Regions from separate parts of the Homo sapiens genome. Here regions 2 and 3 are each reported to be linked to region 1. Evidence: microRNA targets listed by miRTarBase, many of them from high-throughput screens and not tested one by one. Region 1 holds a microRNA gene; each other region holds the end of a gene's coding sequence.

What was found. Region 1 holds the annotated microRNA hsa-miR-579-3p (UUCAUUUGGUAUAAACCGCGAUU, at 1,985-2,007, opposite strand). A microRNA usually pairs through its seed, bases 2 to 8, with sites in the 3' UTR of a target mRNA and lowers its output. Matches are read on the target gene's strand: a 7mer-m8 pairs with bases 2 to 8, a 7mer-A1 pairs with bases 2 to 7 and ends in A, and an 8mer does both.
Region 2: the mRNA of SMIM10 is a reported target of hsa-miR-579-3p. Seed matches in the 3' UTR shown: 7mer-A1 at 7,446-7,452.
Region 3: the mRNA of YWHAH is a reported target of hsa-miR-579-3p. Seed matches in the 3' UTR shown: 7mer-A1 at 7,208-7,214.

Annotation. Positions count from the first base shown.
Region 1 is chr5:32,392,408-32,397,407 of GRCh38, forward strand. It overlaps MIR579 (microRNA 579), which reads right to left and starts at 2,068; the gene lies at 1,971-2,068. ZFR (zinc finger RNA binding protein) reads right to left here. Exons shown (of 20, transcript NM_016107.5): 10 at 4,812-4,931; 11 at 2,752-2,897.
Region 2 is chrX:134,988,339-134,999,918 of GRCh38, reverse strand. It overlaps SMIM10 (small integral membrane protein 10), which reads right to left and starts at 8,928. Exons shown (of 1, transcript NM_001163438.2): 1 at 7,446-8,928. The coding sequence starts at 8,823. The coding sequence ends at 8,572.
Region 3 is chr22:31,952,827-31,964,406 of GRCh38, reverse strand. YWHAH (tyrosine 3-monooxygenase/tryptophan 5-monooxygenase activation protein eta) reads right to left here. Exons shown (of 2, transcript NM_003405.4): 2 at 6,804-8,268. The coding sequence ends at 7,615. It overlaps LOC124905158 (small nucleolar RNA U13), which reads right to left and starts at 11,003; the gene lies at 10,901-11,003.

The DNA of each region.
Region 1 (5,000 bases):
AACCAACACATACATAATAGTAAAAACTATTTAAAGGTAACCCATAAAAAGGATTATTAATAATAACAACGTAAGAAACGTCTGTACAAATCAACACATAAGAAAAAACAAGCAATTTACCACAAAAGAAGTATAAATAGCCAAACATGAAAACAATTCAAACTGAAACAAAATGGCTATCACATTTAATTGGTAGAGATTTTATTAAGCTGTAGCAGGGGTTCTCCAGGTGCAATTCAGGGACACCAAGTGGTCCCGGAGACCCTTTCAGGAGATCCATGGGGTCAAAATTATTTTCACAATAAGGCCAGTCGTGGTGGCTCATACATGTAATTCCAGCACTTTGGGAGACCGAGGCGGGCAGATCACTTGAGGCCAGGAGTTTGAGACCAGCCTGGTCAACCTGGTGAAAGCCCATCCCTACTAAAAATGCAAAAATTAGCCAGGCGTGATGGCAGGTGCCTGTAATCCCAACTACTTGGGAGGCTGAGGCAAGAGAATCACTTAAACTCAGGAGGTGGAGAGTGCAGTGAGCCAAGATCGTGCCATTGCACTCCAGCCTCGGCAACACAGTGAGACTCTGTTTAAAAAAAAAAATTATTTTCATAATAAATACTAAAGACACTTACTTGCTCTTTCATTCTAAATGTACAGTGAAATTATCCAGAGGCAACATGTGTTATTCACCACATATGAACACAAAAGCAAACATGAGAATCTTGCTGCCTTCTGTTAAAACCAGACATTAAAGAGATGTACAAAAATGTAAAATAGCATAACTTTTCCCACTATTCTGTGGAATAATTTTTTTACTGTATTTTATTGATTAAATATATCGTGTAATATTTTAACAAATATACATGTAACCATATTTCAAAAAATAATTAAAATGTCATTTTAAAATGAATTAACAAATATTTAAATTTCTTAGTTTTAAATTTTTTTTTTTTTTTGAGACGGAGTTTTGTTCTTGTTGCCCAGGCTGGAGTATAATGGCGCGATCTCGCCTCACCGCAACCTCCTCTTCCCGGGTTCAAGCAATTCTCCTGCCTCAGCCTCCTGAGTAGCCGGAATTACAGGCATGCGCCACCACGCCGGCTAATTTTGTATTTTTAGTAGAGATGGGAATTTCTCCATGTTGGTCAGGCTGGTCTTGAATCCCGACCTCAGGTGATCCACCCACCTCAGCCTCCCAAAGTGTTGGGATTACAGGTATGAGCAACTGTGCCCGGCCAGTTTTAATTTTTAATACAGTAAGTCTTGACAGGTATAACCCACATAAGGACTCTTTGGAGTCCTTGATAATTGAGGATAAAGGATCCTGAGACCAAAAAGTTTGAGAACCACTGAGTTATGCTATCCAGTATAGGCAGACATGTGAGCATCCTTCAAACATTTCCATTTCCCATATTCTATTATTAGCAACTAACGATAATGTATGCAGTAATATCGCCTCAATAGGTTCACATACTTGGTGAAAGAAACAAAAAAGTGCCTCAAGGAGGGTCAAGATATTAATAACTATAATAAGGAAACACTGGAAACTACCTAAATATCTAAACAATAACAACAAGGATTGGTTATGAAGAAAATTTTACATATGCACAAAAATTACTATGTCCTCATGAAAAACAAAATAATCCGAATTTAGTTTTTAAAGTTGAAGGTATGTAAATGAAAAAAGTGGATTATGAAAATACGTGTATGGTATGTTTCTGCTAAAACTGTATTTTAAAAGTTATACAAAAATATTCACAGCAGCAATACTCATAATAGTCAAAATGTGGAAACAAGTTGCATGTCCATCAACTAATGAACGAATAAACAAAATGTGGTACATAAGGATGTATTATTCAGTATTATTTAGTCATAAAAGACAATGGAATACTGAAACATGTTACAATCTGGATGAACCATGAAAACACGCTAAGTGAACGATGCCAGACACAAAAGACCATAGACTGTAGTAAGTTGATGCAAAAATAATCGCGGTTTATACCAAATGAATTTATTAATTCAAATCGTCATCTGGCACAAACCGCGATTACTTTTGCATTAACCTAATATGACTCCATTTATATGAAATCTCTAGAATAGGCAAATCTATAGAGACAGAAAGGTTAGAGGTTGTCCAGGGCTGGGGCTGGGGGAGATACTAGGTATGTGGGACACATGGGGAATTATTGTTAATGGGTACGTGATTTCTTTTGAGGGTGATGAACTGTTCTAAATTGATTGTGGTGATTGTTACACAACTCTGTCACTGTATAAGTTTAGAAGATATGTTATATTTCAATAAAACTTAACATTTGTATCTTTATATATATATAAACAAATATTTGAAATATGTTTTCTCAATTCTCCTTCCCTGTAGCCACTAAAGTTTCTTTATGGACATTATTAACATGTAGAATCTATCAAATCTTATACTTCTATCAGGAAATGTATGTCTATTTTGCTTGTTTGAAACCGAGGCACTTATTTATAATATGAAACTATTTCTTCATATGTTTAATTTATAAAAGATGCCACTTAAACATATAACTCTAATACCAAGGCCACAGTAAAATATTAGTATAGCCAGTAACAATTTTAATGCATGTCTTTCCTAGACCTAGGATCTTCCTCAAGAGTGAAAATTGGAAGTAAATAAATCTGGATTGCTTTGAATGGGAGTCACATGCTCAGAATGGCTAAGTTTTTAAGAAAGGCTGAACCACTTACCAGGCTATTAAAAGTTAAAGATATTACCTCATTTCCATTCTCCAACGCTCCTCTTCTTCTCGTCTTCGCCAGTACTCCTCCTTCTGCATTTGCTTCCTCATTTTCTCTTCTTGAATCTTTCTTGCTCGAATACTAGGCTTTACTTCTACTTGCAAATCTGGATTTACTTTTTTCTATTAATATAAATAAGACATTTAAAAAACAGCAGCCCCAAAACAATCTACATGTATTTTTAATCATACAATTACACTTATTCTTTAATCACGGAGGCTTTTAGTTGCAAGTTTCCCACTAGAGAGTAAAATCAATATAATTAAGGTAAATCAGAGAAAAGATTCAAAATACATTAATAAAAATTATGTAAAAAGTATGTAACTTAGTGCTGACCAACAAAAAGTCATGAAATCCTTAGAAAAACTAATGGATATTTAATTTTACTTTACATTTGACCCTTGAACAACAGGGGTTTGAAGTATATGAATACACTTACATCTATGCTGCTGAGTTTCTTCTCCCTCTGCCACCCCTGAGAGAGTAAGACCAACCCCTCCTCTTCTTCCTCAGCCTACTCAACTTGAAGATGATGAGGATGAAGACCTTTATATGATGACCCACTTCCACTTAATGAATAGTAAATATTTTGATTTTCATATTTTCTCAATAATATTTTCTCTTCTCTAGCTTACTTTATTCTAAGAATACAGTATATATGAGATACATGACATACCAAAAATGTGTTAACATAAAAATAACTGTTTATGTTATCAGTAAGGCTTCTGGTCATTAGTAGGCTTTTAGAAGTTTTTAGGGAGTCAAAAGTTATAAGCAGCCTGGAGTCCCAGCACTTTGGGAGGCCAAGGAAGGCAGATCACTTGAGGCCAGGAGTTTCAGACTAGCCCGGCCAACATGGTGAAACGTTCTCTAGAAAAATACAAAAGCTAGCCAGGCATGGTGGCACATGCCTGTAGTCCCAGTTACTTGGGAGGCTGCGGTGGGAGGATCACTGGAGCCCGGGAGGTTGCAGTGAGCCATGTTCATGTCATCGTACTCCAGCCTGGGCAACAGAGCAAGGCCCTATCTCAAAAAAAAAAAAAAGGCAGGCAAATTTTTGACTGCGTGAGGGGCCCCTGACCTCCATGTTGTTCAAGGGTCAACTGTAACTGTTTATAAACAGATGACTCTAAATGTCTATGTTGGGGTTAAAAAGTTTCTTTACATATTTAAGTACTACCCTTTTACACTGTTTTAATTTTCACCTCCTCCGTGTTTAAAACAGAAAACATGGATCTAGTACATCAATCTAGCCTAGTTAAAAACTTCAAATACAGGCCAGGCACGGTGGCTCACGCATGTAATCCCAGCACTTTGGGAGGCCAAGGAGGGCGGATCATGAGGTCAGGAGTTCAGGCCAACCTGGCCAACATGGTGAAACCCCATCTCTACTAAAAATACAAAAATTAGCTGGGCATGGGGGTGCATGCCTGTAATCCCAGCTACTCGGGAGGCGGAGACAGGAGAAATGCCTGAACAGGGACCCAGGAAGCAGAGGCTGCAGTGAGCCGAGATCATGCCACTGCACTCCAGCCTTGGCTACAGAGCGAGACTCCATCTCATTAAAAAAAAAAACTTCAAATACAATATCTGATTTATCTTAACATTTGAAGTGTATTCAGTGAAGAATTCCTACGCTAAGATAAGTGAAGGGATTTTCCAACATATCAACTCATCTCAAAGTTCATTTTGGTGGGAATTCTACCAGATAAAGAAGGTGGATAAATAGTTGAGACTTTTTTCAAACATTTTATGTGAATTAATTATCTTTACATGATTGCTTGGTCCAGGCAATGCTTCAGTTTTTGCCACAATTACTAAAACTGATGAGAATGTTATTCTTCTTTATTTTAAAAATGGATAAATAAAAACCAAACATCCATCTGAGTCTACCAACATGACATGCTAATCTTAGAATGGGACATCATGGACTTGGCAAGCTGTGTTTAGATGCTTTCTTTTACATAAAGAATGCTCTGGGTGTTTTTGTTTTTGTTTTTTGTTTTAAAGAAGGTAATAGCTGAAATTTTACTCACTTTATATTGAAGTCTGTGTCTTCGCCCTTTTAAGTGCATCTCCTTAGCATTGGGATCATTAAAGCTGCACTCGCATAATTTACAATGGAACCGAATTACTTTTCCTTCATCATTTCGTACCTTGGTGTGGAAAAAAAATTCAAGAATCATCATAGTTGAAGATTATATCATTCATAAACCCCCACATAT
Region 2 (11,580 bases), not on the chromosome of region 1:
ATCTAGGGTGAAGCATGGGGGTATGTATATTTTCAAGGATCATGGATCATTCTGATGAGCGACTCTAATTACAAACCATTAAAGGCATGCATGTTTTGTGGAGCTGAGTTTGGAAACTACGGGTCTAAGGCAACATTCTCATTTTGCTGGCAAGGACATTGAGATCCCAGAAGGGGAAATGACTTGCCCATGTATGGATAGAACAAATAATCTAATCTTTGAACCCTTTTCCCCATTATATAAACGGACTCTAGATGGCAGTCTATTTCTTGGTTTTAGTCTGTGCCTGCACAAGCAGAAACATTGAGCAATTTATTGGATGAATTTGAGCATGGCAGTGCAATGGTTTAATCGAATGAGTGTCTATCACTCTACAAGCATGTTCTTTCTGTGGAGTCTATTGTGGCCAATTAAGCCAATAACTCTGTCCACAGCAGCTTCTCCTGGGAAACCAACCAGAAACCAACCCTGGTAGCCACCTTGATCTTGGACTTCTAGACTCCAGAACTGTGAGAAAATCAATGTCTGTTGTTTAAGCCACCCAATCTGTAGTATTTTGTTATGGCAGCCTAAGCTGACTAACACACATGCAAGGATCTCTGGCTATGGATAATTAACTTTGCAGCTCCCAGAAATGAAATCTACCAAAATGATTCTCTGGTCTAACCAACAGCGGTGCCTGGCATTTCAGCCATCACACTAGCCTAGCAGCCAGAGGGATAGCTCACGTACAAGTCCCAGGCATGAGCCATTAATTAAACAGACCCAGAGCCTCTAGAATGAGGGATGATCGGGAGAACCTGAGTAAGCAATCTGTTACAACACTTGTGAATCTCCCCCTTGATCTTCCCCCAAAAACACTTGTACCTCATTGACCTTAGCAACTTACAGTGGAAAGGATAGCCCCAAACCTTCAGAAATGAATTGGGGCTGGGCACGGTGGCTCACGCCTGTAATCCCAGCACTTTGGGAGGCCAAGGTGGGTGGATCACCTGAGGTCAGGAGTTTGAGACCAGCCTGGACAACACAGCGAAACCCCGCCTCTACTAAAAATACAAAAATTAGCCAGGCACAGTGGCCACGCCTGTAATCCCAGCTACTCAGGAGGCTGAAGCAGTAGAATCACTTGAACCTGGGAGGCAGAGGTTGCAGTGAGCCATGATCGCTCCACTGCACTTCAGCCTGGGCAACAGAGTGAAACCATGCCCCCCGTCCCCACAAAAAAAGAAAGAAATGAATTGGAAACTGACTTTAAGTTAATGTTAAAGCCAATGGACCAGAACACTCCTGCAGTAGTGCCTACCTCAGAGTGAAGGGGGCATTTACCGAGGTTAGGGGAAACTGAAGTTTTTCTCTGAGTCTGTCCGCCAGTAAGCTGAGTGAGACCCTAAACCCTCCTCTGGGATTATTCCACCACTGCCTGGACATGCTCAGCATCAGTCAGCATCCACACATTGCTTCCAGATGGAGTGTTCCTCATCTGGCTAGTGGCTATTGGGGCTGCCCTGAGGTTCTGTTGCTTCCTCTAACTTCTGTGCTGCAACACATGGTATCATGGAAAGCACGATAGTTATCTTCTGCACCCTTTGAGGAATGCAGAGCGAAGGCATGGAATGGGAGGTTTCCCCCATCCTTTTCTTTCTAGTTCCACCATATCATGTTCCCTATTCACCCTGCTGGTACAGGCAAGCCTCCTGACTTCAGAAATCTCCAGGCAGAAACAGATGCTAGTCTCCAGTATATGGCCACATGGGCTACCTGGGCCCTGGAGAAAGGGGTTATAAGGGTAAGCAGGGGGAAAATGGAAGCTACGAGAGCTCCCCCTCCTCCTCAACAGAGGAAATAAATGCAATAGCATATTCTTGTGGGAATTTCAGGGATTTTTGCCACTATTCAAGATTTGGAAAATGCAGATGTCATTCCTGCCACATGTAGTTAGTGTGAATCCACAGCTAAAACAAGGCTCTCCAGCTGGTGTAGGCTACTGTGCTGGTAGGTCTGCCCGTTGGCCCTTATCATCTAGCAGATCCAATGGTGCCCAAGATGTTTGGAGTAAATCATAATGCTATATGGGTTTAGCAAACAGAAATTCTACAAATAAAAAAAAAGAATGCCATATGGAGCCTGTGGCAAGCCCTGATAGGAGATTCACCATGGAGGCTGCTAGGATGCAATACATACTATGAACCAGCAACCAATATATAGAGCTATTCCTCCCACTGCCAAGATTAGCAAGTCTGGGAGCAGAGGAGTGGAAATAAAGGTAGTGTCTCTCATAATTACACCTGACCCATTGCAACAGTTTTGCTTCCCATACCTACAACTCTGATCTCTACTAGATTAGAGGTTTAAATTTCCTAGGAAGAAACACTTTTAGTAGTAGACAAAACAATGGTTTCACTGAATTTGAAGCCACTCTTAGATCCCCAGAGCCATGCAAAAAAAAGGTGATTTTGTGGTTTCTGCTATAGAAGGAGGACAGAGAGTAATATGGATGATTCTCAGGGGGTCCTCTAAGGTATTTTTTTATACTACAATCCTGAGGGGTGCATGACATAATATTGCAACCCTACAAAGGACTCCCAAGGGCTCAGACTCCTTAGGATTGAAGGACTGAGCCTCCCCAGTGGCTAAAGCAAAGGGAATGTGGAATTGATAGAGTAACAGGACCACCACATGGCTATGTACAGCAATGAAGACTCTACCCTCTACTTATATTTCCCTGTTTATTGTCTTCCTTTTTTGAAACTTTTCTCACCTCTTCTTTCTTTAGTATTATAAATAGGGTACAGTGGTGATGGTGAATTCACCACTTAGATCATGGGATTACAGAATATCAAATTGGGATAATGGCAGAAGTAGAGAAAGAAAAGACATCACTGGGAGAACGTGAACTATAAACAGAGGCCCCATGACTTCACCTCTGACTGTGGTAGCTGGAAATGTTTGTACGTGTTGCCTCTCTCTTGGTTGCATGTGGAATAATTAAATTATGCCAAGAGGCATCATATGAATGGGAGAAGGTTGTTTATACATGCTGGGAATACAAGGAATGAAAAGTAATTATTGTCTATGTTACTTTTTTTTTTTTAATACCTAACATCTTCTCTTTGGGGGAACTGCTAAAAATCACCGGGATTCACTTCTCTAGAACAAAGGAGTACTTGGAGGATAAATGCAGGTGACAGACAGACATTAGTACCCAGTAAAGCCCCAAATATTGGATAGATACCCTTATTTGTCCTGGAGCCTCTCTGCCTGTTAAGAATTTGATTACCTTGCCCAGAATCATTTAGATTATTTGGCTCAACAAAACTTGGCTTATGAACCGCACCTCTAAGTTCCCAAGCATGTTTCAGGAAAGGTTTGAAACAAAGCTATTAGATTTGTACTAAAACTATTCAAACTGGAGACTTGTGGTAAGCCATGCCTTGGAAGACAGGATATTTATAACTCTCTGACCACTCCCACCCCTATATTGGGAGATGAGGGTTCTAAAAACAGTCTCTCTGAGTTTCTGGAGAAGGAGATCAATGCCAGTAGTCATTCAGGTGACCAGTATCTGTCTGAGTCTGAATGCAGTTACAAAACTGCACCCAAGGAAGAGGTCAAGGATGGCAACAGAAAGCCCAGGCTGTAGATCGGTCTGAGGGAAGTCTGGGGCCTGAAACCTGCATCTCTGCCTGTAAAGCCAGAAGTCTGGGAATATCAGGAGAGGACCCAGAGGAAAGGAAACAGGAAATTACAAAGAATCAGGGTAGAACAGGAATTCGCCTTTGATCTGGCATATAAGAGAGGAGATCCCTCCCATTTGGTGCTTTCAGAGAATTGTACCTTTATGAAAGTCTGAGTTAAAAGAGTTTCTGTTGCTCAGAAGCGTGTTAGTAGTGCTCAAGAGAATTTCAGTTAACTCTACGGTTAAATCTATGCCAAAAGTTGCCAGAGATATTCAGCTCATGAAAGCCCAGCAATCACGAAAGAGAGCAGGTCGATAAATCAGAGGATGCTGTAGTTTCACTGGCTGTCTTGCCTTTTTTTGTGGGGAGGTGGGGCAGCAGTACTGTAGTATGAGAGGAATTACACCTGCAGTGAAGTGGAGGAAATTATTTGAAAAGTGAATAATAAAGCCAAAAAGCCTGTACTATTTGCAAGTTAAAATTTTAAACTGTGAGTAACTTTAGAAATGTGTATATTTTAACATGTTCTGTTAATGGGCAAAAAGCTGTGTTTTCTGAGAAAAACGTGACATTTAACTATTTACAATTTCCACATTAAAACCAATTTGATTTGAGTACCTTTTATAAAGAATGCTTTTAGGCCGGGCGCGGTGGCTCACGCCTGTAATCCCAGCACTTTGGGAGACCGAGGCGGGCGGATCACGAGGTCAGGAGATCGAGACCATCCTGGCTAACACGGTGAAACCCAGTCTCTACTAAAAATACAAAAAAAAAAAAATTAGCCGGGCGTGGTAGGGCGCGCCTGTAGTCCCAGCTACTTGGGAGGCTGAGGCAGGAGAATGGCGTGAACCCGGGAGGCGGAGCTTGCAGTGAGCCGAGATCACGCCACAGCACTCCAGCCTGGGCGACAGGCGAGACTCCGTCTCAAAAAAAAAAAAAAAAAAGAATACTTTTGATGTTTCATTAAAAATAATTTCTTTTGTTAGAATCCTTGACCGGGCGTGGCAGCTCATGCCTGTAATCCCAACACTTTGGGAGGCCAAGGTGGGCGGATGGCTTGAGGCCAGGAGTTTCAGACCAGCCTGGGCAACATGACAAAACCCCGCCTCTACAAAAAAATACAAAAATTAGCTGGGCGTGGTGGCATGTGCCTGTAGTCCCAGCTACTCAGGAGGCTGAAGTGGGAGGATCACCTGAGCCCGGGAGGCAGAGGTTGCAGTGAGCTGAAACTGCACCACTGCACTCCAGCCTGGGCAACAGAGTGAGGCCCTGTCTGAAAAACAAAAAACAAAAACAAACAAAAACAACATAAAGAATTCCCACCCTCTTTTTTAAGTGACTATGAGTTCCATCAATTCTCCATAGTGCAGTGGTGCAACGGCTTGGGAGTGCTGAAATGAGGCTGCAGGAATGGAGTGTCTAGCCTTGGTTCCACAAATTCCAGGATCCATGGCATCCACTTGCAGCATGAATTTTACAAGAAAATTTTAAAGGATGCCTTCCAATTTCTTTTTCTCTTTTTTTTTTTTGTGTGTTGTTTTTTGTTTTTTTGTTTTTTGGGTTTTTTGGGGGTTCGTTTTGAGACGGAGTCTCACTCCGTCACCCAGGCTGGAGTGCAGTAGCACGATCTCGGCTCACTGCAACCTCCACCTCCCGGGTTCAAGCGATTCTCCTGCCTTAGCCTCCCAAGTAGCTGGGACTACAGGCATGCACTACCATGCCCAGCTAATTTTTTTTTTTTTTTTTTTTGTATTTTCAGTGGAGATGGGGTTTCACCATGCTGGCCAGGCTGGTCTCAAACTCCTGATCTCATGATCCACCCACCTCGGCCTCCCAAAGTGCTGGGATTACAGGTGTGAGCCACCGTGCCCAGCCCCAATTTCTTAAATAATAAAAATACGATTAAAAGTTAGTCATGCAATGAGTGTCTCATATTAGTAGGAAGAATAATATTGTTTGCAATATTTTATTTTATCACTCTGCCACTATACTTCTCTGTGTTTCTCTCTTCTCTTGAAAATTGCTAGTAATAGTCCCTATCTCAGGGTTGTTGTGAGGATTAAATTATGTATATAGGCCGGGCGTGGTGGCTCACGCCTGTAATCCCAGCACTTTGGGAGGCTGAGGTGGGCAGATCATCTGAGGTCAGGAGTTCGAGACTAGCCTGGCCAACATGGTGAAACCCCGTCTCTACTAATAATACAAAAATTAGCCGGGCATGGTAGTGCACACCTGTAATCCCAGCTACTTGGGAGGCTAAGGCAGGAGAATCGCTTGAACCTGGGAGGCGGAGGTTGCAGTGAGCCAAGATCGCGCCATTGCACTCCAGCCTGGATGACACTCCATCTCAAAAAAAAAAAAATGATGTATATAAAGTGCTTAGAACATTGTATGGCATATTGTAAGTGTGCACTCTTTCCATTTATTATTTCTCTATAACTGAGTTGAGTATATGAATATATAATATACATGTATCACTCTTTGACTCAATCACTTGAATCATTGATTAGGTGGCTTCACATTTACTAAATTCATTCCACATCAATAAAATATAATTCCTTATCATTTTAATGGCCACATAGTATTCTATTATATAGATGTACTATTTTGATTTAACCAGCTCCTACTGTTGGATGTAGGAGTTTATTTCCACTGTTCTGCTATTATATATTTCTTTCTCTTTTTTTTTAATTTTACATTAGTTTCTTAATTAGACCCCAGGTGAACTCATGTTTTGCTCTTATGGTCAACACCAAAATTTAAGATTATATAAACATCACTGGGCCCCTGTCCGATTTTTTTTTTTTTTTTTGAAACAGAGTGTGGCTCTGTCACCCAGACTGGAGTGCAGTGGTGCGATCTTGGCTCACTACCACCTCCACCTCCCTGGCTCAAACCATCCTCCCACGTCAGCCTCTTGAGTAGCTGGGACTACAGACACGTACCACCATGCCCAGCTAATTTTTGTATTTTTATTAGTGACAGGGTTTTGCCATGTTGCTCAGGCTGGTCTTGAACTGCTGAGCTCAAACAATCCGCCCGCCTCAGCCTCCCAAAGTGCTGGGATTTCAGGCGTAAGCCACCGTGCCCAGCCTTCAATTTTTAAGTTTTGAAAATTAATCACATATTTATTGTTTAATTTTTATCTTAACTATGACATTCCACAGATTTGCTCATGAGAAGTTTCATGGTGTGAAGAAGCTCTGGGCTACATGAAGACTATTGGCCGTTTTTATTTTTATGTTTTTATTTATTTATTTATTCATTTGAGACAGAGTCTCGCTCTGTTGCCCAGGCTGGAATGCAATGGCATGATCTTGGCTCACTGCAACCTCTGCCTCCTGGGTTCACGCGATTCTCCTGCCTCAGCCTCCCGAGTAGCTGTGATTACAGGTGCCCGCAACCATGCCCGGCTAATATTTTGTGTTTTTAGTAGAGACAGGGTTTCCCCATGTTGGCCAGGCTGGTCTCTAACTCTTGACCTTAGGGGATCCACCTGCCTTGGCCTCCCAAAGTGCTGGGGATTACAGGTGTGAGCCACCCCGCCCGGCCCATTTTTAGTTTTAAAGCATTTCCATATGGCCTGTGGTCTGTTTGGAAACAAGACATTTACAAAGTCAAGGAAATCATAGTTTGTGTGATCACCCAGGAACCTTGTAGGATATACAGATACTACTGAAGAAAGATAGGAAGGCACTTATTTTAACTCAGAGTCCACCTGACACTCTTAGCAACCCCCCCCCCAAATTTCATTCTAAATGCAATAAATTCATTTTAATGTCTTGATTTTTAATCGAAGCAAAAGCAATACATGTGTATAGTTTTTAAAAATCAAACAGTAGAAAAAGGACATATAATGAAAAGTAATAGAACTGTCCCTCCTTCTCAACTCTTGCTTCCCCAAATCAGAAACACAAACTTCTACACGTGCTTGTTTAGAGATTACACCCCCTTTTTCAATAACATGCCTTTATTACTATTTCTTGACTTAATGACATGAGGCATTTTCTGCTGACTTCCTGCCGCCCCCCTCAGCTCTCCTTCCCCCTGAATATAGTCATATCACTAATTTTTAACTCTTCTGTTGGCTACCTGGTTCAATGAATAGCAAAGTGGAATGCTCTGATTGGATTTTCTCATCACCGACTCCAGAGTCTTGATCCATGTGCCAATATTCAAACAGATTCCCTTTCTCACACTTTCGGCAACTGTTCAAAACCATGCCACATCTGAGGTTGCTTCATATGTGAAACATAAGTTTCTTGCACAGTTTTTAATGTTCTTCCCTGTAGTTTCTTTCTGTCATTTTTTTTCCTTTGGGTTGAAGAAATGTATGCCTTCCAGAACATGTTATTAATGTCCTCCAGCTTATTATTCAATCCATCTATTGCTTAGAATTCATCTCATTCAATTGGGTCTATTCACTTCGTTTCTAATTGGGGAGATTTGCCTGCTGTCTGAGCCATTCTTGTTCAGTTTATCTTTCCTTAAGTTTTTAGTTACCTTTCCCCGTTTTTTTTTTTTATTGCATTCTGTGCCCATTGTCATTTCCTAAAGTTCGTGCTGTTTTCTGTTTTACGGATGCAAAAACTTCTCAGATATTTTTAAGGATTTTCAAATTTTTAAGCTGTATTCTGTTCCTTCAAATATTTCCTTGAGAGTCAATTTTTCATTCTATCTTAGACGATTTGGGTTATATTTCAGGCTTTCCACAAATGCTGTTTTTTTCTTTTTTTGCCACCCATTTATACTAAAAGATGAGGCAATGGAAAGAATGAGTGGCAAGTCTGCATGCAGGAGCGGAGTTGGTCGCTTTGCTCTAGGGTGGGTGAGCAGGTGGGTGGAAGTCAGCCATCCTGACGAGGAGCCCCCAAATGCCACAAAGTTAGTGGCTCTAAATATATACCTGCAGGTGGACGTTGAGAATCACCGAGGCCAGAATATAGAAGTAAAAGAAGTTCTTGCGCAGCCGCCAGGCCAGGTCGAAGAAGGTGAGCAGCGTGCGCGTGAGCGTCTTGCAGAAGGCGCCGTAAGAGCCGCGGGTCCCCTGCGGGCGCGACAGCCGCACCGCCAGGCCAGACAGGGCCGCCGCCGCCATGGACCTGATGCTGCCTCCCACATAGTGCCCAGAGCCCAAGGCCTCCATCAGGCTCCGCTGACTCACCGACCGTGGGACAGAGGGATGGACGCGGGAAAGTACGGGCGGGAGGCCTCCTGGGCTGCTGCTGATCCGAGCTGCGCTGCAAGGCGGAAGCCCTCCTTTCCCGGCAGGGCTCTGGCCCCAGCGGTCACTGGCGCCCTGCCAGGTTCCGCCCCGCCCCACGGGGTCCGCGTGGCCTAGAGTCAGTTTAGCCTAACTGTCCTGGCCCAGGCCCCAGAACCCCAGGAAGGGCAGGGCACGTGCTGACGTGGGAGACCTAGCTTCCTAACCCGGGCTGTCTTTTCTTTAAAATTATGTTTAATTTTTAAGTTTTTTTCAGTTTTTTAAGTTTTAACAAAAGGAACACAAAACTTGCTCAAAACGATATAAAATGTCCTTCATAAGCATGATCTTGAGCAACTCAGAAGCACAAACCCATTTCCTGTTGTCTCATCCCTTTAGGAACGTTTTTCAATCCTCAACTCTTGAGCTAGTACAAATATACAAAACCCGCAACTTTTCTGGACATTAAAATGTGTGCATTCTGCTTGAATAATTCAAGCAATACTTCTGTTTTTGTGTTAGATCTTTCGTATTCTTCTGATTGGAAAAGTCATTCAATCAAGTTTTTAGAAATTTTCAAAGCAGAAATATGTAAAACAATAGAAAGCAAATTCCCTGCATAGCTTCACTTTCCCCTCCTACCCTTGCCATGAACTACTATTACGTTTGCTGTATCTACTTCCCGACTTTATGTATTGATATATTGCTCTTACCTTTTCAAGAATGTACATCTACTTCACTCTCTTTGATGACTGAATAGTGATCTATGTACATGTTGACTAATAGTGGTCAATAATTTATTTAACCAGATCCCTATTGATGGACATTCTGAATGTTTCTAGTTTTTCATATGTCAAAAATTGTTTCAGTGAACATCACTGTACATATGAATTTACAAGTGGCAGAACAGTAGGAATAATATGACCCCATCTTTGTTTATGAAAACAATTACATATACATATACATTTAGTGTTCAAAGCCAAAACGTTTTACTAATACATGCGATTGATCAAAAAAGTTTAGAGATCAGGGCTCTATGTTACCTTGAGTGTTAACAATCTTAATTTTTTTATTACCAATATGATAGGCAGTACATTTCATTATTCTTCTAATTTGCATTCATTTAATTGTCAGTGCAGTTGAGCAACTTTTCTAAATTTCTGAAGTTTTCAATATTGTTTTTCTGATGGCTTGTAAAACATTAAACATCATATTTATTATGAGAAAAGTAAAATTCCTAGGCTCATAACCCCCTAGAGAGAAAGACTACTAATTTGTATATGTTTTTATCAATTGTTTGCGTATATTTATAAGCACAAACATGTATACGCACATAGATATATTTACAAATCGTAAAACAAAAATGGAATCAGATAAACATATGCAGTCCGGGCGCTCACGCCTGTAATCCTAGCACTTTGGGAGGTTGAGGCAGGCGGATCACCTGAGGTCAGGAGTTCAAGGCCAGCCTGGCCAGCATGGTGAAACCCTGTCTCTACTAAAAATACAAAAATTAGCTGGGTGTGGTGGCACTCGCCTGTGGTCCCATCTACTCAGGAGGCTGATGCAGGAGAATCGCTTGAACCCAGGGGTGGAGGTTGCAGTGAACCGAGATCGTGCCACTGCACTCCAGCCTGGGTGACAGAGCTAGACTCGGTCTCAAAAACAAACAAACAAAAACCAAATAAAACCAAACAAACAAAACAACATATGTCCCCACCTTTGCTTTTAAACATAATGATATGTCTTGCATATGTTCCCATGTTGATACTTTATTGGCTGTGTGTTATTCCTTATGGATGGCCAATAATTAACTGATCTCCTGTTGATGGATTTTTGGATGGTTTCAAATTTTTCGCAATCATAAGCAATGCTGAGATTAATATTTTGCATGCACATCATTGTACACCTTTCTGATATTTTCCAGGGATACATTCATAGAAGTGGAATTCTTAGCTCAAAGGGTTTTCATGTAAGGATTTTGATACGTATTGTCAAACTGCCTTCCACTAGCTTGTACTAATATACACATGAACATACCGTCAGCAGTTCCTAACAATTGGCATTCACATTCTTTTAATCAGTTGACATTCTGATAGGTGAAAAGGGTATCTCACTGATGTTTTAATTTGCACGGTTTGATTACTAGCAAGGTTGCTCCATTTTAGCCAATGTCTCATTAACAAGGCAAGTCACAGAGCAGATTCAAGAGAAAAGAAATAGATCCACGTATTAACAGTTCATTTTTATGTGTATATAGCATTGCACATCTCTATGAAAGGAACCACTCTGTCAAGTTTTGCCGTCTTACCCGGCACAGTGGTGCTTATCTGTAGTCCCAGCTACTTGGGAGGCTAAGGTGAGAGAATTGCTTGAGCCCAGGAGTTTGAGACAAGCTTGGGCAACATAGCAAGACCCCCATCTCTAAAAATAAATAAGTAAATTAATTTTTTTAAAGTTTTGCAGTCTTAATTTTAATAGCTATTTCCAATTCCTATGTAAAAAGTTGTTCCAGGCTGGGCGTGGTAGCTCACACCTGTAATCCCAGCACTCAGGAGGCAGAGACAGGAGGATTGCTGGAGCCTTAGGAGTTTGAGAACAGCCTGGGTAACATAACGAGACCCTATCTCTACAAAAAAAGTAAAAAATTAGCTGGACACGGTGGCACAGGTCTGTAGTCCCAGCTACTCAGGAGGCTGA
Region 3 (11,580 bases), not on the chromosome of region 1:
ATCAATGTAGTTATTGGAAAGGAGAAGGGGTTAGCCCCGAGCTTCTGCTCTTTCCCAGCCCCACACTGGTTTCCCACTTGCCCCCAACAAGCACAACATTCAAAGCTTTTTCTTCTAACTCTTGAGATTTTTTTGTTGCTGTTAATATTTCCCTACATTGCCCTCAATCTCCAGAAAAAACATAAAATTCTCTCTGCCCATTTCACTGCAGAAGTGGCCTCCTGGAGGGTTACCATGGTGATCAGATGATGTCACTGTCCTGGAAACAGTTGCCTAGGAAATGTGTGATGTCACTTCCAGGAGATGATTCCCATGGTAACCATCTCAGTGGAATTGGGGGGTGGCCAGGAAATGGGGGCTGAGGGCGGATACAGAAGGGACAAATGTGAAGAGCGGAAGGAAAGGGGGAGGGGGAGAAATGCAGGAAAAAACCAGGAAGAGGAAGGGGACCTTCCCAGAGCAGTTGAAAATAATATACAGAATCTCAGAAATGGAAAGGTCCCCAGAGACCACTAAATGCAACAACCTCATTTTTACAGAGGCTGCTGAGAGGCCAGGACTTGCTCAAGGTCACACCGCCAGTTGACAGGTTAGAGCCAAGCCCAAGGCTGCATGACTGTCAGGTTTGGGTGGGGTAATAAAGGATTCCTTTCAGCCATTTCTCTTTGTTTTGTTTTGTTTTTTTCCCCGAGACAGAGTCTTGCTCTGTCGCCCAGGCTGGAGTGGCGCAATCTCGGCTCACTGCAACCTCCACCTCTCGAGTTCAAGCGATTCTCCTGCCTCAGCCTCCCGAATAGCTGGGATTACACATGTGCACCACCACACCCAGCTGATTTTTGTATTTTTAGTAGAGATGGGGTTTTACCATGTTGGCAAGGCTGGTCTTGAACTCCTGACCTTGTGATCCGCCCGCCTCAGCCTCCCAAAGTGGTGGGATTACAGGCGTGAGCCACCACGCCCAGCCTCAGTCATTTCTTTTTAAAAATTCTGACCTGTAATCAATGAGTTATTCATGAATTCATTACTGTGAGTTTGTGTGCTGGACCTGGAGAGGACCGTGAGTGACATTTTCCTAGTTACTTTATATCTTTTTAATGTATCTTCCCCACTTTTTTGTATCTCCCCACTCTAACACTGGAGTTAGCCCCCTGGTCCATGTCCATGTCTGTATAATTCACTAAGGTCTCTCCAGCCACCTGCCCAGTGTCTACCCCATAATGGCAGCTCTTCAATGTGTTTGTCAAATGAATGAAGACAGATAAATGCCATTGTGTGGTACAGACCCACAGTACTGGATCCCAAAGAAGGGATCGCAGTAGCTGACAGGGAGGAGGTAAGATTTCATAGATAGAATTCGAATAGGGCAAGAGAAGAAAGCCAGACAGGAGAGTAACGGCTTGAGCAAAAGTAAGAGCAGGCTGAACAAACTGGGTGCAGCTGGAGAGATTCCAGTTGGTGCTTTGATCCACCTCTTGAGTTATACTGTAACGGCAGTGCCTACTGTAACTGTAGTACCTCACTTTTTGAAGTGAAGGAGCTCCAAGCTTTAGGAGTAAGAAGCACATTAAGGTCCAGATTGCCTGGAGATGTGGGTGGGGCAGTAAAAAAGACCAATCTGGCTTAAAAGGCGAATGTAAAGAAGGTGATTGAGCAAAGGCTACCTGGCAAGGAAGAAAGAGGTCTTATCAAGGAAGACCTGGAGTGGCAGGCTTTCAGCCCCTGTCTTGAAGACAACATCGCATCATGAAAAGGATCTTGAAGCCCTGCACAAAGACATGCTCTGCCACTCCTCAGCTATGTGACCATAGAAAGTCACTTTTCCTCTCTGAGCTGCTAAATTGGAGCTATGACCTAATTCACAAGATTATTAGCTTGAACTTTAAAATGTAGGCTGGGCGTTGGCCGGGTGCAGTGGCTTACGCCTGTAATTCCAGTACTTTGGGAGGCCGAGGTGGGCGGATCACCTGAGGTCAGGAGTTCGAGACCAGCCTGACCAACATGGAGAAACCTGTCTCTACTAAAAATACAAAATTAGCTGGGCGTGGTGGCGCATGCCTGTAATCCCAGCTACTTGGGAGGCTGAGGCAGGAGAGTCGCTCGAACCCAGGAGGCAGAGTTTGCACTGAGCCAAGATTGTGCCACTGCCCTCCAGCCTGGGCAACAGAGAGAGACTCCGTCTCAAAAAAAAAAAAAAAATGTAGGCTGGGCGCAATGGCTTATGCCTGTAATCCCAGCACTTTGGGAGGCTGAGGCAGGAGGATCACTTGAGGTGAGGAGTTGGAGAGCAGCCTGGCCAACATGGTGAAACCCTGTCTCTACTAAAAATACAAAAATTAGCCAGGTGTGGTGCCATGCACCTGTAGTCTCAGCTACTCAGGAGGCTGAGGCAGGAGAATCGCTTGAACCTGGGAGGTGGACATTGCAGTGAGCTGAGAGTGTGCCACTGCACTCTAGCCTGGGCAACAGAGTGAAACTCTTGTCTCAAAAATAATAATAAAAAAATAAAAATGTACATAAAGCTTCACTTAGCAGGGTGACTGACTAGCTCACAAAAGACAGCAAATGTTATTTCCCCTCCCCTTCCTAGTACAGAATGGCATGGGAGTAGAACTTTGGGAAATGAATTTGACAATAGATTCCTTCAGGTTTGTTTGTTTGCTTGAGACAGGCTGTCACCCAGGCTGGAGTGCAGTGGTGTAATCAGGGCTCACTGCAGCCTCAACCTCCCAGGACCAAGCAATCCTCCCACCTCAGCCTCTCAAATAGGTGGGACTACAGGCATGCAACAACACAGCTGGCTAAATTTTTGTACTTTTAGTACAGATGGGGTTTTACTGTGTTGCTCGGGCTGGTCTCAAACTCCCGGACTCAAGCAATCCTCCTCCCACCTCGGCCTCCTAAAGTACTGGGATTACAGGTGTAAACCACCTTGCCAGGCTTGTTATAACATTTCTAGGACTCCTTTTCTCTAGTTGGGGATCAAAATATCCATGGCGTAGTGGAAAGAACCTTAAAGTAAGACAGCCCATTTCAATCTCAACCTTGCCTCTTACTAGCTATGCACGTTACATCACCGAATACCTGGTTTCCTCATGTGTTAAAAATATTAACATTCCTCACTGCTAAGGCTGCTGTAAAGATTCAGAGACCATGCATTCAAAGTACCCAAGACACAGTAAGTATTTGAGATGGTAATTTTTATTAGCCAGTCTAATGATTGGGTTTTATAATGAAAGAAGACCTGTTAAGTCACACCCAGCTCTGAATCATAGTGTTTGTGCTTGCCTGATAGTCACATCTGCTAAGATGAGGACCCTCTCAGTCTCTGGATGGCAGATTCTAAGGGTGTATGGGAGGAAGGTATGGAGGGCCTGATGGCCCACGCACAGCCTATTTAATCTTACAGAGCCAAGAGGAATCCTAGCTCCCTGATCCCGAAGGATTTAAGGACGGCCAAGAATTTACCCAACAATAGCTTCATTATCAAGAATCCTACCCCTTCCCCCAACTCAAAGAAATGGACTTTTGAGCAGGGTTTGAGGAGCTACTGGAAATCTGAAGCAATAGCAACAATAATTTTTTCTGGGGGGGGGGGGGGGGCGGGGACGGAGTTTTTGCTCTTGTTGCCCAGGTTGGAGTGCAATAGCGCGATCTCGGCTCACCGCAACCTCTGCCTCGCAGGTTCAAGCGATTCTCCTGCCTCAGCCTGCTGAGTAGCTGGAATTACAGGCATGCGCCTCCATGCCCGGCTAATTTTGCATTTTTACTAGAGATGGGGTTTCTCCATGTTGGTCAGGCTGGTCTCGAACTCCTGACCTCAGGTGATCCGCCCACCTCGGCCTCCCAAACTGCTAGGATTACAGGCGTGAGCCACCGCGCCCAGCCAACATCAATAAATTTAAACATCCCTTTTCAAGTATAATTTCTTCCATTCTAAGTGAAAACATTAAAAACACTGAAAGTCTCCTAAGGGTGAAATGTGTTGTATCCATTTTCTTTCTAGTCTCAACCCAAAGAGCATGGCAGTTAAGAGAACCAGGGACAAGGATTCGGGATCTGAATGCTACTCCAGATGCACCAATTTTGCCATGACCTAGAAAGCTATTTCATTTCTCTGGACTTTAATTTCTCATGCTGTAACATTGAGATGACCCCTTCTTAACGATTTGAGAAAGTTATCTTGACAAGTTTTAAAACGTTTTAAGTAGAATTGGGGAAAAAATATGCAGCAGTGAAGACTTCCAGGCTTACATCACATGTAATTTACAGCACCCTCTTAGGTCCTTTCAAAGAGCCTCATCTATTATTTATGTGGCTAACCTCCTTTTCTTTCTTTTTTTTGAAACCGAGTCTCACTCTGTTGCCCAGGCTGGAGTGCAGTGGGACAATCTCGGCTCCCTGCAACCTCCGCCTCCTGGGTTCAAGTGATTCTCCTGCCTCAGCCTCCATCGTAGCTGGGATTACAGGCACCAGCCACCACACCCAGCTAATTTTTGTATTTTTAGTAGAGGCGGGGTTTCACCATATTGGTCAGACTGGTCTCGAACTCCTAACCTCAAGTGATCCACCCACCTCAGCCTCCCAAAGTACTGGGATTACAGGCATGAGCCACTGCACGCGACCTATGTGGCTAACATTAATCACGTATGTCCATACTTCCCCATACCTCATTCCCAAAGAAGGTGCCTTACACACCATGAACTTAGATTAAAACATAACCCAAATCCTACACTTAAAAAATGAGGGACCTGAACCTCAAAGGTGGCATGGCTTGCCAAGGTTCCCCAGGCCCCCCAGAGGGCCGTTAAAATTCTGAATAAATCTTGGGTGGAAGCTGTCCTCTAGCTTACCAGCTGTATAAATTCCAGAGATCCACAACCTTTGCACTTTAGCTTCCTCATCTGTAAAGTGGGACAAAACCTTTCAGAAGACAGCTGTAAAACGTAAATGTGAATGCTTTAGCAACTGCAAAGGACATTTCAAATGTAAAAGCGACCGGGCACAGTGGCTCATGCCTGTAATCCCAGCACTTTGAGAGGCTGAGGTGGGAGGATCACTTGAGGTCAGGAGTTCAAGACCAGCCTGGCCAACATGGTGAAACCCCATCTCCACAAAAATACCAAAATTAGCCGGGCACGACAGTGGGTGCCTGTAATCCCAGCTACTCAGGAGGCTGAGGCAGGAGAATCACTTGAACCTGGGAGGCAAAGGTTGCAGTGAGCTGAGATCGTGCCATTGCACTCCAGCCTGGGTGACAAGAGTGAGACTCCCATCTCAAACAAAAAAAGAAAATGTAAGAGCCCTTTGTGTGTGTGTGTGAGAGAGAGAGAGACAGAGAGAGAAAAGAGAGAGAGAGAGAGGTCTTGCTATCAGAGACAGAGAGAGAGAGAAAAAAAGGTCTTCCTATCTCCCAGGCTGGGGTACAGTGGAGCAATCACGGCTCACCGCAGCCTCGACCTCCCGGGCTCCATCCTCCCAAGCAGCTGGGACTACAGGCGCACGCCACCATGGCCCAGCAACATTTTGTCTACGTGCTTATCAAAAGCAAGTATTAGCCATATAAAGCTTGTTGACTTTCAAATACCTGACCTACTAACTGAAGTGAAACTCAATAACCACTTTATCTTAAAATTAGGTCAACTTGAAACAGGCTTCCTGAGCCGTATTCATCGGCCCCGGCATGGGGGGCGGGGCTCATACTCTACTTCAGAATAAGAAACAGGTTAAACTTACATGCTTACAAGTTATGTGCTCCACAATATAAATTCAAGGACAGAGATTGTGTCATGGCCATTTCCATCAGTCTAATGCCAAACTTTAGTCAAGAAGGTGTTTAAGGCTGGGCACGGTGGCTCACGCTTGTAATCCCAGCTCTTTGGGAGGCCAAGGTGGGTGGATCACATGAAGTCAGGAGTTTGAGAGCAGCCTGGCCAACACTCAAAACCTCATCTCTACTAAAAATACAAAAATTAGCCTGGTGTGGTGGTGGCGTCTGTAATCCCACCTACTCAGGAGGCTGAGGCATGAGAATGGCTGGAACCTGGGAGGTGGAAGCTGCAGTGAGCCGAGATCATGCCACTGCACTCCAGCCTGGATGACACAGCGAGACTCCATCTCAAAAAAACAAACAAATAGAAAAAGGCGTTTAAGGGTTCTGTGTAACTGAACCAACTCACCTAACAAACGTTCATTCCTAGGTGCCACTCTGGAGGTGATAAAAATCGTGAGGAGCTGGAAACCACCTCACTCAAGAACAGTCAGCCAGTGATGCTGAGGCTCGAGAGACACATTGGGGTTAAGCAAGTGTTTAAGGGGTAGGTTAGGCTTTTTAACTCAATGAGGTTTGCTTTTCTATTTTAAAGAATACTAAATGCTTAACAATAATCACTAAAGATTTCAGGGGTGCAAGTTGTGCCCCTAGTATCTTATTACATTAAGAAAACTTGAGGACGTGTATAAGCTCCGTATTTACCTTCAGTGTTAAATACACTCTCAAGTTCAACAGAGCCCACAATGTTTCAGAGGTGCTATACTGTGGAAGACTGCATTTTGTTCTGCGAGGCTCATTAAAAAGCACCAGTTATCAGGAAAATTGATCAGAGAGGCTATGTTAGCTGGGTTCACAGAAAACTATTTAAAATCTATGAATCCTATGTGTGTGCTGCAAAATATGTAATGTAATGAGAGGGGAGGAAAACTTGGATAATGTACTACAAATGCTTCCATGTTTGAGAGATTCAAACCACAATTTGTGACTGGTTAAACAGTTCCTCGAGGGGGGAAAAATCAAGACCAAACAGAGATAATATCCCCAAAGCAGCATTTATTTACCCATTGAATTCCAAAACATTTATTTTAGAAGTCTGGCATTTCATAATCACCCATCTTGATTGACATGGGCTGACACACATGGCGCTGTCAGGATACACAAGGACAATAGCCAAAGAGTTACAAAAAATAAATCCATGATTCTTAAACAATTGCAACCAAAAAAAAAAAAAAGTTACAAGTATCAAAACTTTCAGATGCATTGCATTGAAAAGAAGGTTTGTGCACGTCATAATTTAAAGAGGCAAAACCAAGGAGCTACTGAAACCTCACGTTAAACAGTTTATTATAAAGCTGATGGAAAGGAGCAAGTTGTCTCTCTGTATCAGCTTCCCTTAACAGTTTTCCATTAATTGAAGAAAGAGGTGGGAGGGGTGAATTCATTTTTGCATGCACAAGATGTACTGCTTAACGAAACACTATCAGCTTGTTTTAAATGGATCTTTTAAATATCAACTGTAGCCTGGTTGGCTAATTCTTTCTAATCTTCCCCATTACTTTCGCCTAGATTTCCCATAGATCAACAGGCATAGTAAAATGCCTCATCAGAACACACTTCTCCACACAATTCAAAAAGGGAGCTCCTGTGGGCTCAAAGCAACCATCAGTCCAGCAATGCCCATGATTTATCTGAAACTGCTTCCCAAGAGACAGGAGTGCAGATCTGAGTAGCTGTGCTGCCAATACAGATAGGTTTAGCACTAGATATTTAGTGATTGTGGCAAGGAAGAATCGGTGATGATGGGGGTGGTGGGTGAAGGAAGGGCCAGGGGACCTGAAGGATCTTCAGTTGCCTTCTCCTGCTTCTTCATCCTGCTGGTCGCTCGTCCAGAGGGTGAGGTTGTCTCGCAGCAACTGCATGATCAGCGTGGAGTCCTTATAGGAATCCTCGTTTAGTGTGTCCAGCTCAGCTATGGCATCATCGAAGGCTTGTTTGGCTAAGAGGCAGGCTTGCTCAGGTGCATTCTGGATCTCATAGTAGAACACGGAGAAGTTGAGGGCCAGGCCCAGCCGGATGGGATGCGTGGGTTGCATCTGCTCTTTGCTGATTTCAAAGGCTTCCTTGTAGGCAGCTTCAGAAGCTTCGACCACACTGTTTTTCTTCTCCCCAGAAGCGACCTCTGCTAAGTAGCGGTAGTAATCACCCTTCATTTTCAGGTAAAACACCTTGCTCTCATACTGGAAATCATTGCAGTTCTTGATCAGGAACTTGTCAAGCAGAGACAGGACATCATTGCAAACTGTCTCCAGCTCCTTCTCAATCTTCTCCCGGTAAGCTTTAACTTTCTCCAATTTCTTTTCGTTTCCATCAGCCATGGTTTTCTGCTCAATGCTGCTAATGACCCTCCAGGAAGATCGCCTGGCACCAACCACATTCTTGTAGGCCACAGAGAGGAGATTTCGATCTTCATTGGAGAGAGGTTCATTCAGCTCTGTCACCTGCAAAACCCCAAAAAGATAAACATTGAAAGCAAAATCTGAAAATCTTGGTAAGAAGCCTTCCCTTCAACATAATCAACAATCCTTCTCAAGAACGGAATTACGAACAGGTCAGTCACTCTGGAGAATAAAAACCACCCATGGATAAAACCAATATAGACATGAACCCTATGTGAAGAAAGACTATAGTCTAACAGAAGAGATAAATACTTGGCACCCAAAACAGAAAATCATAGGGGCTTGAGAAATTCATAATTCGGGTCTGATAAGATGTTGCTTTCACCTTGGTAGAGGAATGGGACTAAGGATAATTATGAAAAGGTTGTACAGCAGCAGTACATAATGGTGAAGAAGAAAACCTCGAGCTTCAGCCATTCTGCAAAAGATACTCTGAACAGGCCGGGCGCGATGGCTTATGCCTGTAATCCCAGCACTTCAGGAGGCCAAGGGCGGGCAGATCATGAGGTCAAGAGATCGAGACCATTCTGGCCAACATGGTGAAACCCCATCTCTACTAAAAATACAAAAATTAGCTGGGCGTGGTGGCACGCGCTTGTAGTCCCAGCTACTTGGGAGGCTGAGGCAAGAGAAACTCTTGAACCCGGAGGTTGCAGTGAGCCCAGATCGTGCCACTGCACTCCAGCCTAGCTAGCGACAGAGCAAGCCTCCGTCTCAAAAGAAAAAAAAAAAAAAAAAAAAGATACTCTGAACAGTAAGATCGTACGGTCCCTTTGTCAAATGTTCAAAGACAACAGACTGGAAGTGTTCCAGACTCTGCTTCCAGCTTTATACTCTGGAAAGAACCAACCACTCCTCAAATACACATTAACAGATGGTGGGGCTTCACAGATCAGATGGAACATCACACAGATCCAGTGGCCAGAGCTTCGCCCTGTGTGGCTACACATGGAACCCTAACTGATACTCCCAGCCCTCTCCCAAACCAAAATGAAGAACAATTCATAAGTGACATGAAAGTACCCCCAGCTCCTAGTGAAAGGAAGCACAGCTACTCAGCAGGAAGTTGTACTCTGACCTACCTCACAGGAAACTCTGGTCATCAAGGATGGAAGCATCAATTATTTTAAGTGGAAGAGTTAAATTTCACAAGCTTTAACTTCCCTTAGTTCTCCATGATGCCAACTACAAGTGAACTAGCTATGCAGTTAGTAGGAAGAGCATTATTAGACTTTGCAGTGGTTGAACTGTATCCCCCGCCAAAAGATACGCTGAAGTTCTGACCCTAGGTTCCTGTGAATGTGAGCTTATTTGGAAATAGGGTCTTTGCAGATGTAATTAGTTAAGATGAAGTCATACTGGACATTAGGGTGTGCCCTAAGTGCAATTACAGGTGTCCTTATAAGGATAGTGAGATTTTGACACACACACAGGAAGAATGCCATGTGACAGTGGAGGCAAAGACTGGAGTGACGCATCTACAAGCCAAGGAACACCAAGGGTTGCCAGAAGCCACCAGAAGCTGGGAGAGTGCCTAGGAAGGATTCTTCCCTAGAGCCTTCAGAGGGAGCGTGGCCTGCCTACACCTCACTTTCAAACTTCTAGCGTCCAGAACTATGAGAGAATACATTTATTATTTTAAACTATCCAGTTTGTCGTACTAGGTTCAGCACCCCCTAGGAAACTAACAGAGTTTCCTAACAAGAGTTCCTAACAGAGTTGCTAACAGAGTTGGTCTGGGCCCAAGCAAAGAAAATGACTTCCTAAATTGACCCAGGACATTTCACAAGCCCTTAAAAGATGGTGTGTCGTCTAAAGTAGAGGGATTCCTTAATATGACCTACTGGTAAAGGTCTTTAATTTTATTAAATCAGTCTCTGCTTATCCAAAAGGTCTTTAATTTCAATAATGAAAAAAAAGAAAGCAAAGCACTTAGGAAACCATAAAACACTAAACAAAAAAGGTATTACTTAAACCAATCTGTAAGGACAGAACCTCCAGAGGGAAAAGGCCAAGTTCATTGGGGAAAGTTATCAATAGCATATTCAAATAGACACACTTAAAATGGATTGAGAAGACTGAGCAGTGGAGTATCAGAAATCATGAACAATGATGGTTTATTTGGGGAATTAGTGGTTCAAGGACATAAGCAGCAAGTGTAATCATTATTACAGGTAAAAATCAGAAAACGTGCCAAGTTCTCACAAAGTAAAACAAGCAATTGTCTGAGTCCTCCCTACCCCCAAGCCCCAGACAAAATAAAAATACCAGCTCACTCTTAATTTCTCCATTTCCCTGTCCCCAGGACCCCTACTCTTCTGCTACAAACCCTTAACACAGGCAAAGTCTCTCCTTTGCCTACCCACTTCTTTCTTCAGTGTGGTCTTTGGCTAACAGCTATCCTGACCATTCCCCAGGGGTGCTGCCTCCACTCTGGTCAAGCCAGGGTTCTCATTATTCATCCTCACATATTCATTAGTAGTCTCCATACCTCTCACTGTGATCTGCCCCAGTCTACCATGAATCTACAATCCATGCTCCCCTTAAATCCAGCTGAACACCTATAACCCCACTAGTTTCCTCCTCCAGTAAGTGCCTTTAAACACTTACATACATTTTCTTACGGAAAATAGAGACTTTGTAAATATTTAATAACTTAGTCTTTTTTTGCCCACATCAGAGGGTCACATGTCTATGTTGTAACAAGGTTTGAGGGTGGCACATCTCACACCTGCATGTCAAAACCCAATCATCACACTTATGAACTACAAAAAGATGAGTAACTACTTAGTCTTTTAACGAACAACACTTCTGAATCAAAATTCCATCCCAAATATTCTGATAAATTTCAGAATGCTTGAATCCTCTAGAATGACTTGCGTTTCTAGAGCAATATTCAATAAAACAAAGCATAAGGCAACAACAGAATTTGGAGAGCTCCTTTCATCTTGTAGTAATTAAACTAAGGCCATTTGGCATTAAAATACAAATAATATCCATAAGGAGTCACAATATACTTCCTCCTGTGACTAACAAAGCTGCTTCTGTGAAACTGGCAAAGATACACCAAGGTAACTTCCCAGAGTATATCATTTAAAGTGAGTACAAATCTGAAATACATGTATGTATAATACAGAATGCTTGCATAACACAAAAGGCGGTATAATTATTAAACCCAAGACATCTGAAGTTTAGTCTGAGCTAGCTATGTGACCTTAAACAAATCACAACCTTTTTGGACATCCAAAGTAAAATAAGCAGGATTAGCCCAAATGATCTCCAAGGCCTCCTTCAGCTCCAATGTTCCATGATTTCGTTTTTCCTGTGCACCAATAAAAGGTGTGGCAGGGCTTC